2 separate regions of the Homo sapiens genome follow, and region 1 is linked to region 2. The links come from fine-mapping of genetic effects on gene expression. Tissue or cell type: fibroblasts. Region 2 holds a variant in brackets; the other region holds the start of a gene. All regions are shown on one strand. Distances are between the middles of the regions.

Region 1 (5,269 bases), 210 kb before region 2:
TTAGGTTTCAATTTGCATGTCCTGGGTATTGTTGAGATGAAACATATTTTTAAATGTTTATTGCCAGCCATGTTCTTCTGATATGAAATGAAACTTCATATCCACACAGCATATCTTGGTGGCCAGGAGGTGTCATCATCACATTTTAAGAACTCTGTGTCTTTTCTCCAAAACTTGTTCTAACTGCAGCCTTCCCCCCCTTTGGTGATGCAACTGTCCTTCTGGCTGCTAAGGCAGATGCCTTGGAGCCCTCCCTGTCTTTCTCTTTTTCTGACCACATCCCCATGTGATAGGAAATCCTGATAGGAAATCCTCCTTTCAAAATGCATTCAGAAACCGACCGCCTCTCACCTCCTCTGCTGCCTCCACCCTGGTCCAGGTCACTAGGCTCTGAATTTCTGCAATAAGTCTTCCTCATTTGCTGTCCAGGCCCTGAGCAGCAGTCAGATCACATCACACCTGTCAATAACCCACAGTGGCTCCTAACCTCTCCCAGAATAAAAGCCAAAGCCGTTACAATGGCCCATGTGGTCTTATACAACAGCGTTTAGGGATGTGGGAAAGAGGGTGTTGGCTGGGGTGATGGAGGTGACCAGGTCACCTATCTTCAGCTGGGCTGGGGCTTATGATGCAGTGGCCAGTGGCCATTGAGGGTCCCTAGGGTCCGTAAGAAAGGGCAAGTCCTAATGTACAAGCACTTTCCTATAGTTTTGTATTTTTCAATGTCCCACTGGCTAGAGCAGGTCACCCAGCCAGGCTGATTCCAGGGCTGGAAAGTAGAGTCCATTTCTTGCTGGGAGGAAGGACAAAGCCAGATGGCAGAGGGTGAGCGTATAGGGAGTGGTGAGTACGTGGCCATTGTTGAAGTTGACTACCCTGGGTTAAGTGTTACAAGTACCAGTGGTGGGTAAACCTCTAGGGATGATTGCATAAAAGAAAATCAAAAGGTCTAGATGGTTGGAGTATTGCATTAAAAAGATGAGGAATACTACATGCATTCACTTTCTGGAATCTGTGTTTAAATGCCATACACTTTAAAATCTAATCTGCTTGCCCTCTGATTTGGAGAGAATTAACCCAGAAATTATCCAGGTTCTTTAGGGCTCCAAGACATTCTAAAAAATAAAGGTGAACGTTGAATTTAACCAGTTGACAGTTGTTCTTGGATTATGATCAATCAGCCTGTGGCAGCAGGGCACATGCTGAGAACAAGCCTCAGGTTCTCTAAGTTCTCCCACCACCACAATGTTCAGCTATAGTGAACTCATAGAAACCGTGTGTCGGGGCCTCCAACTTCGCCAAGCACCATAAGAAGTTTGAGTTGTGAAAAAATTTTCTCTACTCAAAATTGTGAAGAGAAACGGCAAGGTTTAAATTACCACATATTTGTCTTTGAAGAACTTTACAACAACTTCATTGACTGTTAAATTTAGATTCATAAAAATCTAAACAACGGCCGGGCGCGGTGGCTCAGGCCTGTAATCCCAGCACTTTGGGAGGACGAGGTGGGCGGATCACCTGAGGTCAGGAGTTCAAGAACAGCTTGGCCAACGTGGTGAAACCCCGTCTCTACTAAAAATACAAAAATTAGCTGGGCGTGGTGGCGGGCGCCTGTAATCCCAGCTACTCGGGAGGCTGAGGCAGGAGAATCACTTGAACCCAAGAGGCAGAGGTTGTTGTGAGCAGAGATCGCCATTGCACTCCAGCCTGGGCGACAAGAGTGAAACTCTGTCTCAAAAAAAAAAAAAACAAAAACAAAAACTAAATGACATTTGAAAGCAATTTGTAGATTTTCACACTTCCTAAGAATTCTCAAAGATGCCAAAAACAAAAATCGCAGCCACTAGCAATTTAAATGACTTCCTCGTAGCCAAATAAATCCTAAGGTAAAATTATAAACATTCCCTTAAATTCAAATTTTATAACAAAAAGAAAGATAATAGGGAACGGAGGGTGAATTATTGTGTTTGATATATTTGGCGGTGAAAAATACATATATTACGTGCTGTTTAGGGTCCACTGAGAGTCATAAAACTGACCCTAGTGACCGAGCTACCGGAAGGACTTGGCAAGGGTCTAGCGAGCTCGGTTATCTGCGTTTTCCAGGTGGGGCAGCCCAAGACCCTTCTCAGACCCAGAGAAGCTGGGTTTCCGCCCAAAGCCCGGCCCCAAACCACCGATTTCCGACCTTTCAACCTACTTTGGCAGAGCAAGAGTTTCCGCGGGAGACTCCCTGCTTCCCTCTGCCCAGGTCCCCTGAGGCCGAGTGCGGTACTGAGTGCTGAGTAAGGGGTGCCGAGTGCCAAGCACTGAGTAACTGGGGGAGGGGAACCATGCAGCTGTCATAAATAATTAGCTCCTGTGAGGAACAGGAACTCCGAGACTGCGGCCGGGCCAGGTGGGCAGAGGTCGCAGCGCCCTCGCCGCGTTCCCCGTCCCCATCCGACGCCAGGACAGCGCCTCCTTAACTGGGGTAGCCCCTGAGAGCGTGGGCGGAGCCCCGCCCCGCGACCTCAAGGCCCCGCCCCCTCAGCGCCTCCCGGCCCAGCAGCTCGGAAGACCGCGAGGCGCGCTTTTCTGACGCATCGGCGCCTTTCGTCTGACGTATGCCTGCACCGCCCCCTCCCCTCCCTGCCCCGCCCCCGCCCCGCCCCCGACTGCGCGGCGCCCGCCCTCCCTTAGTCAGAGCTGCTCGTCTGAGGCTGCTGAGGCGACGGCCGGTGTCGTGGTCGCGGTACCTGTTCCAACACGGCTCGCGGGCCCGTGCCGGCTCCGGTCCCCGGCGCGGCTGTCCGAGCCCCTGCGGCGGGCGGACGATGGTGTGGCGGAGCACGCGGACGCGGGCGGCGCGGCGGCGGGCATGAAGGAGGATGGAAGGGCAGGACGAGGTGTCGGCGCGGGAGCAGCACTTCCACAGCCAAGTGCGGGAGTCCACGGTGCGTGGGGACCGAGGCAGCCCTGACAGTCCCGCGTGCCCGCCCGGGCCCTCCGTCCCCGCCCCCGGGCCCCCGGTCCCCGGACCCCTCACCTCCGGGCCTCGCCTCGCGCCTCCCGCCCCGGCCTCTGCCGCTCTCCCTCCCCACCCCTCCTCTCCCCTCCCCTCCCCTTCCCTCCCCACCTCTCCTCTCCCCTCCCCTCCCCTTCGCTTCCTCTGCCTGCCCCCCCGCTCCGCTCTTGCCTCCCCTGCCCCCTCGCGCTCCCTCCGTTCGAGCCCCGACCCCGCCCCCGCCCCGCGGCCTCGGTGCTGCCCTTCCCTTCCCGCGGGGAGGGCTGCGGTGCGCGCCGCGCTCTGGGACCCCAGGGGCTTCCTCTCTGGGCGGGTGTGCGGCTCGCGCCTCGGGGTGTGGACGGCGGCCCCGCCAGTGCGCGCCCCCGCGCTCCGCCGCCAGGCCAGGTAGGCAGGTGGATGCGCAGGCGTCCCGGAGAGCCTGGGTGGGCCCGGCGGGTCCGGGAAGGGCCGGGCTGCGCGGAGCCCGCCCGCCTCTCGCGTTTGGACCCGGCCGGTTACCTTGTCCCGGTCAACACCTCCTGCCCTCCTGGCGCCTCACGTTTCCATCCCTCTTTCATCTCCCCCAGCCCCCACGTGGGTTGAGTTCGAAACCTTACCGTTTGGGATGAGAATATTGGTTATTTTTGGGAGTGAGGACCTCAGCAAAAGTCCATTTTGCTATGGAAGCAACTTCTTAGGGAAGCAGCTTCTTTTTTGGCCCATGTTCCATGTGTGCTGTTGGCAGGAGTCAGGAAGCGGACTTGACCTTGGAAAGTCTACTTTGATGTTTTTATCTTTTCATGATGCTCTAGAATGTATTGTAATTGGGTTTATCTGTGTTTTCATAACTGTTGTAAAATATGTCAATTTTTTATGTTTATATTTACGCCTCTCCTAAGTTGTCTACGATTCAGTCACACTTGGTTTGAGGTGAAAAAATTCTGCTTTAGAATTATCTAATTTGTGTACTCACTGATCTTGAAAATTGAGAATCACTTTGGAAGTCATACTTTGAATAAAGAGGACATATAAAGTCTGAGCTGGTGGAATTTGAGTTAGTGGAATTTGGTACACATTTAGTTGTAATTTTTATAATTGAAGCTAAAATACACAGAGATAAGTTCATGTAATCATACATGTACCCTTCAGATCATTTCATACTAAACACGCCTGTGTACTCCTGAATCCACCAGGAGTTTGAGACTGGTCAGCCTGGGCAACATAGTGAATCCCCATCTCTACCATTATAAAAAAATAAATAAATAAACACAATTTTACTAGGATCCCAGAGACTGATTCCTTTCCCTCTTCCAATTACTTTCTCCTCCACCAAGGGTAAACGTTGCCCTGGCTTCTAATATCATAGATTAGTTTTTGCTTAGTTTTGAACTTTATGTAAATGGAATCTTACCGTATATACTCTTCTGTGTCCAGTTTCTTGTACAATGTTTGTGAAATTTCTCCATGTTGTATGTGGTTATAATTCATTCTCGGTGCAGTAGTTGTGTGACTATAGCACAATTTATTTTTCATTTTACTGTTGATGGGCACTTCAGTAGTTTCTAGGTTTTGGCTATGAATATATATATGTGTATATATATGTGTATGTATATATGTGTGTGTGTGTGTGTGTGTGTGTGTATATATATATATATATATATATTTTTTTTTTTTTTTTTTTTTTGTGATGGAGTCTCGCTCTGTCTCCCAGGCTGGAGTGCAGTGGCACAATCTCGGCTCACTGCAACCTCTGCCTCCGGGATTCAAGTGATTCTCCTACCTCAGCCTCCTGAATAGCTGGGATTACAGGCACACACCACCACACCCAGCTAATTTTTCTATTTTTATTAGAGACGGGGTTTCTCCATGCTGGCCAGGCTGGCCTTGAACTCCTGACCTCAGGTGATCCACCTGCCTTGGCCTCCCAAAGTGCTGGGATTACAGGCATGAGCCACCACGCCGGGCTGGCTATGAACTTTTTGTACATAGCTTTTGGTGGACATGTTTGTGCATTTCTGTTGGGGATAGCCCTAGGAATGGAATCCCTAGGTTAAAGAGTGTGCATTTGTTCATCTTTAGTAGATACTTTAAAACAATTTTCCAAAGTGGTTGTACCAGTGTACACTTCCGCCAGTACTGACAGTCTCAGAGGTGTGGTTGTTACTCATCTTTATCAATACTTGATATTTTCTGTCCTTTTTAATTTTAGTCATTCTAGCAAGTGTGTTATAGTGTTCATCATACAAATAATTTTAATTTGCATTTTCCTGATAACTAATG
Region 2 (5,269 bases):
ACTCCAGAAATGGATGCCAGAATACGGAGGCCAAACGTTCTGAGTCCTGGTAAGGACAGTCGCTCTGGGGGTCCTCATTTTACTGCAGTTCCTGCACGCCAGTGAAAGAGAGGAGATAGACCCTGGAAGGCAGAGCTGCAGATGCTCATCATCAGGTCAATTCTGGAGCTACAGTTTTGTTTCTGACTGGATAGGGATGCACCAGTGACTGTCACATCAAGCAGTCCTTTTATTCTCTCTCCTTTAGTATCGATTTTAAAGGGCATTAGGCACTATGGTTCCAGAGTTTCTTGGGGAAAACTTGCAGATTCTTATTAATTGGTTCTGCAATACTTAAATAAATTATTTTACAATTATAAGTTTTCAGATTATAACATTTGTATTAATTTTTACTGATTTTCCAAGATACTTCTTAGATTTACTATTTACGTAGCTTTATGTACATTCTCTGTAAAAATAGACCTCTAAATATGAGGCTTTACATGAAATTTGTACACACATACACACTAATGTTAGCTCCTTAAATTGCTGCACTAAGGTGCTGGTTAGTAGAGATGGACGGAGCCTCTCGCGTTTTGCTCTCAGATGTGTTAAAGGCGCACGTGTACCTGCTCTCAGCGGCAGTGCGGCCTCCCCATCTGCTGGGTGCCCATGGCCCTCCCTGCAGCCTCAGTGATGACCTCGTCTGCCAGGGACACAGGTTTTCATCATTTACAGGCTCTTATGTGCTAGTTTTGTTGGTAGCACGTTATTTAATGCATAAAGGCAGAATTCTTACAAGTTTTTTTTTTTAATGTGAACATAGATGCAGCACCGACTTTTTAAACTTGAAAAAACTGGTATAATGTTAACTTTTAAAAATAACATTTGGACACACTAGTAATTGATTTTTGTTTACAGATTGTTTTGTTTACAAATTGTTAGTCTTTGTTTCTATGAGATACTTTTAGTGTGACTTTTTAAATGTCTTAGAAATTAAAAGTTGTACAAAAAGTGATTTCATATTTGGTTTATAAGCATTTATATGTGGGGTTTATTTGTTCTTTTGTTTTTTCCATCTTAAATATTATCATGGCTAAAACTTAAGGGTATTTATAGTTTAATTCCATTTCAGTTTTATAGAGGGCAGTAATTATTCTGATGAATGTTGAATTAAGAAATGGATATTTTCTTTCTCTGTTGTGCAGTTATTGGTAGATCAATTTCTTATAACCCACAATGTAGCATCAATAATTGATAGCATGTATTTTATTTAATTACTTGAATTATTTAGACTTGATTTCTCTAATTTTTTCCATAAAAGGACTGAACAGCACCTACTTGTGGTCTGGACAGCTTAACCCAGAGTTCCTGGAAGAATAAATGCTGTTAGCATCTGGTTAATTTACTGGCAGACAGAAGCCTACTTACAGTGGCTTTCAACTTTTTGACCACAGTAAGAAATAACCCATTACACACACACACACACACACACTCTCTCTCTCTCTCTCTCTCTCTCTCTGTCTCTCAGATACGTATAAGCAAAAATTTAACAAGACAGTACTTGTTTTTCCTAAGTGTGCATGCTGGCATCTTCTGTTTTATTATTTTTAAAAATACTAGACACAGACACTAAGTTACTTTGTGGCCTCCTAATAGATGGCAGACTTCAGTTTGAAAAGCATCCCTTTGGAATGTGGTTTAAAAGAAGAAATAATACAAAGACCTTTTTGGAGTTTTTTTTTTTTTTGGTTTTTGAATATTGTTTAGGTAAAAATTATTGCTGCAAACACAACTGAAGCAAAAGTACTGTGTACGCAAATTACTTGTTGCACTGTAGAAAATGTAATATCAGGAGAAGTTCCTAAAACTCACAAATATATACAAAATTTCAAAACTTGGTGATTGATCCATATGTCTTGAAGGAATATTAGGCAATAAACTTACCTTTTCAAGAGAAGTTATTTAACTTCCAATTCTGTGTTCTTTAATTAGGAAAAAATTTTTTCAAGGTTAACTATAATCAAATAGGAACTTCACACAAAACCTCATTATTCTTGGATATGGATTTGGTGTTCTGCTGTTACTTCTAAAGGTGGTACAGAAGTCAAGTTTATGAGCCTGGATTATGAACAGCAGGGCGGCCCTGATGTGAGTGGTTGTGGAGGACTAGAGTGATGTAGAAGAATCTGTTGTGTCTGAGTGTGAGGAGGTGGAGAGTCACGTGTGGGCTATGGGTCTGAGAACTGAAGTTTTAACAGTTACTAAAACTGTTTTGTGGCTGTTGTAATGTCTTCTCCTTTCCTTTCCTTTGAAAAGCTGTTACTGAATGAACGATGCCGCTTACAAACACTGACACTTCAGAACCAAGCATATTTGATACTGCTGTAGCTATTTATATTGATTCTGCAACTTCTCTTTAACAGCATCTTGAAGTCATCCACAGTTGTTCTATATGGACTCCACAGTAGAGTCAGAGAACTAAGTGACAAGTGGAGCATCGTCCTCCTCCTGCTCACTTCCTCCTCGCCACCTCTCTGGCCTGGCTATCCTTCAGTCTGAAGAGTGATTCACTTTTTCTTTTCTTTTTAGTCTTTACTGTGGAATCTCATCAAAGACTTGGAAGCA[G/A]GGGTGGTGAGAGGGGCCTGGGGCGTGGTGTGGAGGGTCGAGTTCTTTGTCGTCCCACAGTCACCCCCAGGACCACCTTGCGAAGCCGAAAATACACATCTGCATTTTACCGACAAGGAACGCCACTGAGAAAGCTGCAGACATTTGCCTGGGGTCACGCTTACAGTGGGCAGATGAACTGGATGTAAATACAGGCCAGTACAACCGCAGTCTCATTTTTTCTTTGTTTTAGGTTTTCAGTTTCTTGTTCATTCATGTACCTTACAGTTCTATTATCTGGTTGATAAAGATTCATGACAGGTATCCTCATTCTAGATTATAACCTTTATTCTTATCAAATGCCTCCAGTCCCACAATTCGCTAAGAATTCTCTTTCTGGACTTGATAGTGATTTAATGATTCCCCCCGCCCATGGAATGGTAGGCTCCTAATTAAGTGGATTTAAAGGCAAAAAGGGATGTGTGAGAAGGCACAAGAAGTGGCTTCATCTTGCAAGGTGACTGTCAGACAAGTGGGTTCCAACCTGTTAAAATAAGGGAGGAATGGCCACATCCCGTAGGGACTGCTGTAGCTGACCAGGAAGACACAATGAGGGCAGCAGACAGGGCTCTCCCTGTCCGCTGAGTCCTCCCATGAACTCATGTTTCCAAAGGCCCCACTCTTTCTTGGTCAGTGTCCCAGTTTTTATAGAAGAGACCTGATGAGGCTGTGGAGTAATTGTATAAAAGCTTGCACTGTTTTCCTGACTTGACCTGACAATGTGGCGTTATCTTCAAATTGTCCAGAGAAGTAGCTACTTCATTCAGGTCCTTTTTAGCGTTCTGTGGTTGCAACTTGGTCTCGCAAGCTTTCGATGGGCGCGCCATTCCATGGCCACTTTTCAGTAAGAAAATTGCCTGATTTTCTGTTAACTGTCACAGGCTGCCCTGGACCATTCCTCAGAACTCATGGGATTTTCGCGACCCTCATCCTCAGTGAAGTTAGATGACCATTCCTGCCTTTCATCCCACCGATTTTCCTAAGTATCTGTTGCCTGCAACTAACACTAGTTCCTGTGTCAGTAAAGTACTGCACTTGGTTGCAAAGAATAGAGATGGACTCTGCCAACATAGGCACGGAAGGTTTACGGGGTGGATGGCATGGCTCACAGATGTGATGAGAAAGCCCCGGAAGAAGTGTTGGGCACAGCCTTAGGCACAACCTTTCCTGGGCTCTTCCCATCACTGAATGATCCATGTATCTCCGGGACTCTCCTTCTAGATCCAAAGTTTAGGGCGGCGGAATCGGACTGCTCTGGCCTTTGACACGTGCCTGTGCTTTGCCTGTCAACGCTATGGGGAGAGAGATGTCAGCTTACAGAAAATTGAGGTTCTGTGATTCAGTTTCCCTCTGCTCTCTTAGAATAAAAGTGCTTACTCATTGTTTAAAGCATTCTCCAAATTAGTCTGCAAATTTTTTGATAGTATACATCCTTAAAAAATGAGCACATCCCAATATATGCATATTTATTCATAAATGATACATACATATGTAGCTATATAATGTGTACATCACAAAACATAGGAGAGTATTTTTTCTAAGGGATGAGATAAGAATAAATAGAAATTTTGGCATTTCTTCTCACATTAGATGCTGGGTTATTCTGAGCCCATGCCATGTGCACACCCACTTGGCCTCTTCCTCTTAGGCCTACACCCTGCCCTTTCCTTGCCCCTTGTAGTTACTGTGGCTGGAGTGATGAGCGCCACTCCCAAGCATGGCCTGGAACAATGTCCTCCTGCCCCTCCACCAGCAGTGACAGGATTCACTGGGGACTCGGGGGCAAAGGAGACTGTGTCACAAGACAAAAGGAGCCAGGGTCACACATGGTGTACCCTCGCCCTGCCTCACCCATGGCTGACATGGGTTGGACACCTCAGAAATCATGTGTCTTCAGCGAGCCACTGAGAGTTGGGGCTTTATCTGTTACTCGGCTAGGGGTAACCTAACCGATGAGACTGTAACTGGTTACTGTAAATAACCAAGCTCCCAGTAATAGTAAACCAGTGACAAAAACAATTCTTATCCAAAAAGGTTCACTTTTTTTTAAAATGTGTGAACTAAAACAGTCTTTATTGCTCTAAGACATTAAAATTTGCACTTTTTTGATGTTGAATACCACTGAATATTTTATTTTTATATTTTATTACACAGAAATACAGCAATTATTACAAAACGAGTATTAGGAATGGCAAAGGCTTTAGGACAGACTATTAGCGGAAAACATTTGGAACTTAAGGAGTGTTTTACATTTGGAACTTACTTTAAGGAGTGTCGTTCAGACACTAGCTATATCTTAACCTCAATTTTTAGAAGTAAGCAAGCTCTCATTTTTTGCTATTCATATTTGAAGTGATTAAACTCATAAATTTGAAATTTACTTTTTAGAGACCAAAGATTAAAATTAGGTGGGATGTCAGCTTTTAAAATATACTAAGATTTCCTACAACTACCAATAGCTTATTTCCCTGGGAAACAGATTACATTGTAGTACTTAACCCAGAACTCATGCAGTTCATCCAAAATGATGGTAAACTTTTTTCCTCAGAATTACCTAACTTTCCTTGACTATGAATTCAACATTCAAGAATCTTCTTCTGGTAGCAGGAGCGGCAGAGAGGAC

Which allele goes with the higher level. Alleles are on the strand shown, and positions count from the first base shown. SD is a standard deviation of normalised expression in the study named.
For the expression in fibroblasts of the gene that starts at base 2,681 in region 1, G is the high allele of the variant in region 2 and A is the other (small effect, 0.22 SD a copy in GTEx).

Evidence for each region. PIP is the estimated chance that this variant, and not a neighbour inherited with it, causes the effect.
Region 1: it holds the start of LMBR1, and the variant in region 2 is fine-mapped to the expression of LMBR1 in fibroblasts (GTEx, PIP above 0.99). The same link has a PIP of 0.9 or more in T cells.

Annotation. Positions count from the first base shown.
Region 1 is chr7:156,890,595-156,895,863 of GRCh38, reverse strand. It overlaps LMBR1 (limb development membrane protein 1), which reads left to right and starts at 2,681. Exons shown (of 17, transcript NM_022458.4): 1 at 2,681-2,936. The coding sequence starts at 2,871. LOC102723795 (a long non-coding RNA gene) reads right to left here and starts at 2,466. Exons shown (of 4, transcript XR_928253.3): 1 at 2,201-2,466; 2 at 352-432. RefSeq lists an enhancer at 78-157 and silencers at 2,460-3,039, 3,090-3,589.
Region 2 is chr7:156,676,609-156,681,877 of GRCh38, reverse strand. It overlaps RNF32 (ring finger protein 32), which reads right to left. Exons shown (of 9, transcript NM_030936.4): 9 at 4,748-5,269. The coding sequence ends at 5,223. It overlaps LMBR1 (limb development membrane protein 1), which reads left to right. Exons shown (of 17, transcript NM_022458.4): 17 at 1-4,087. Among named protein-coding and RNA genes, the nearest start is that of RNF32-AS1, 19 kb to the right of the region's middle. The variant G/A (reference allele first, on the strand shown) is at 2,608.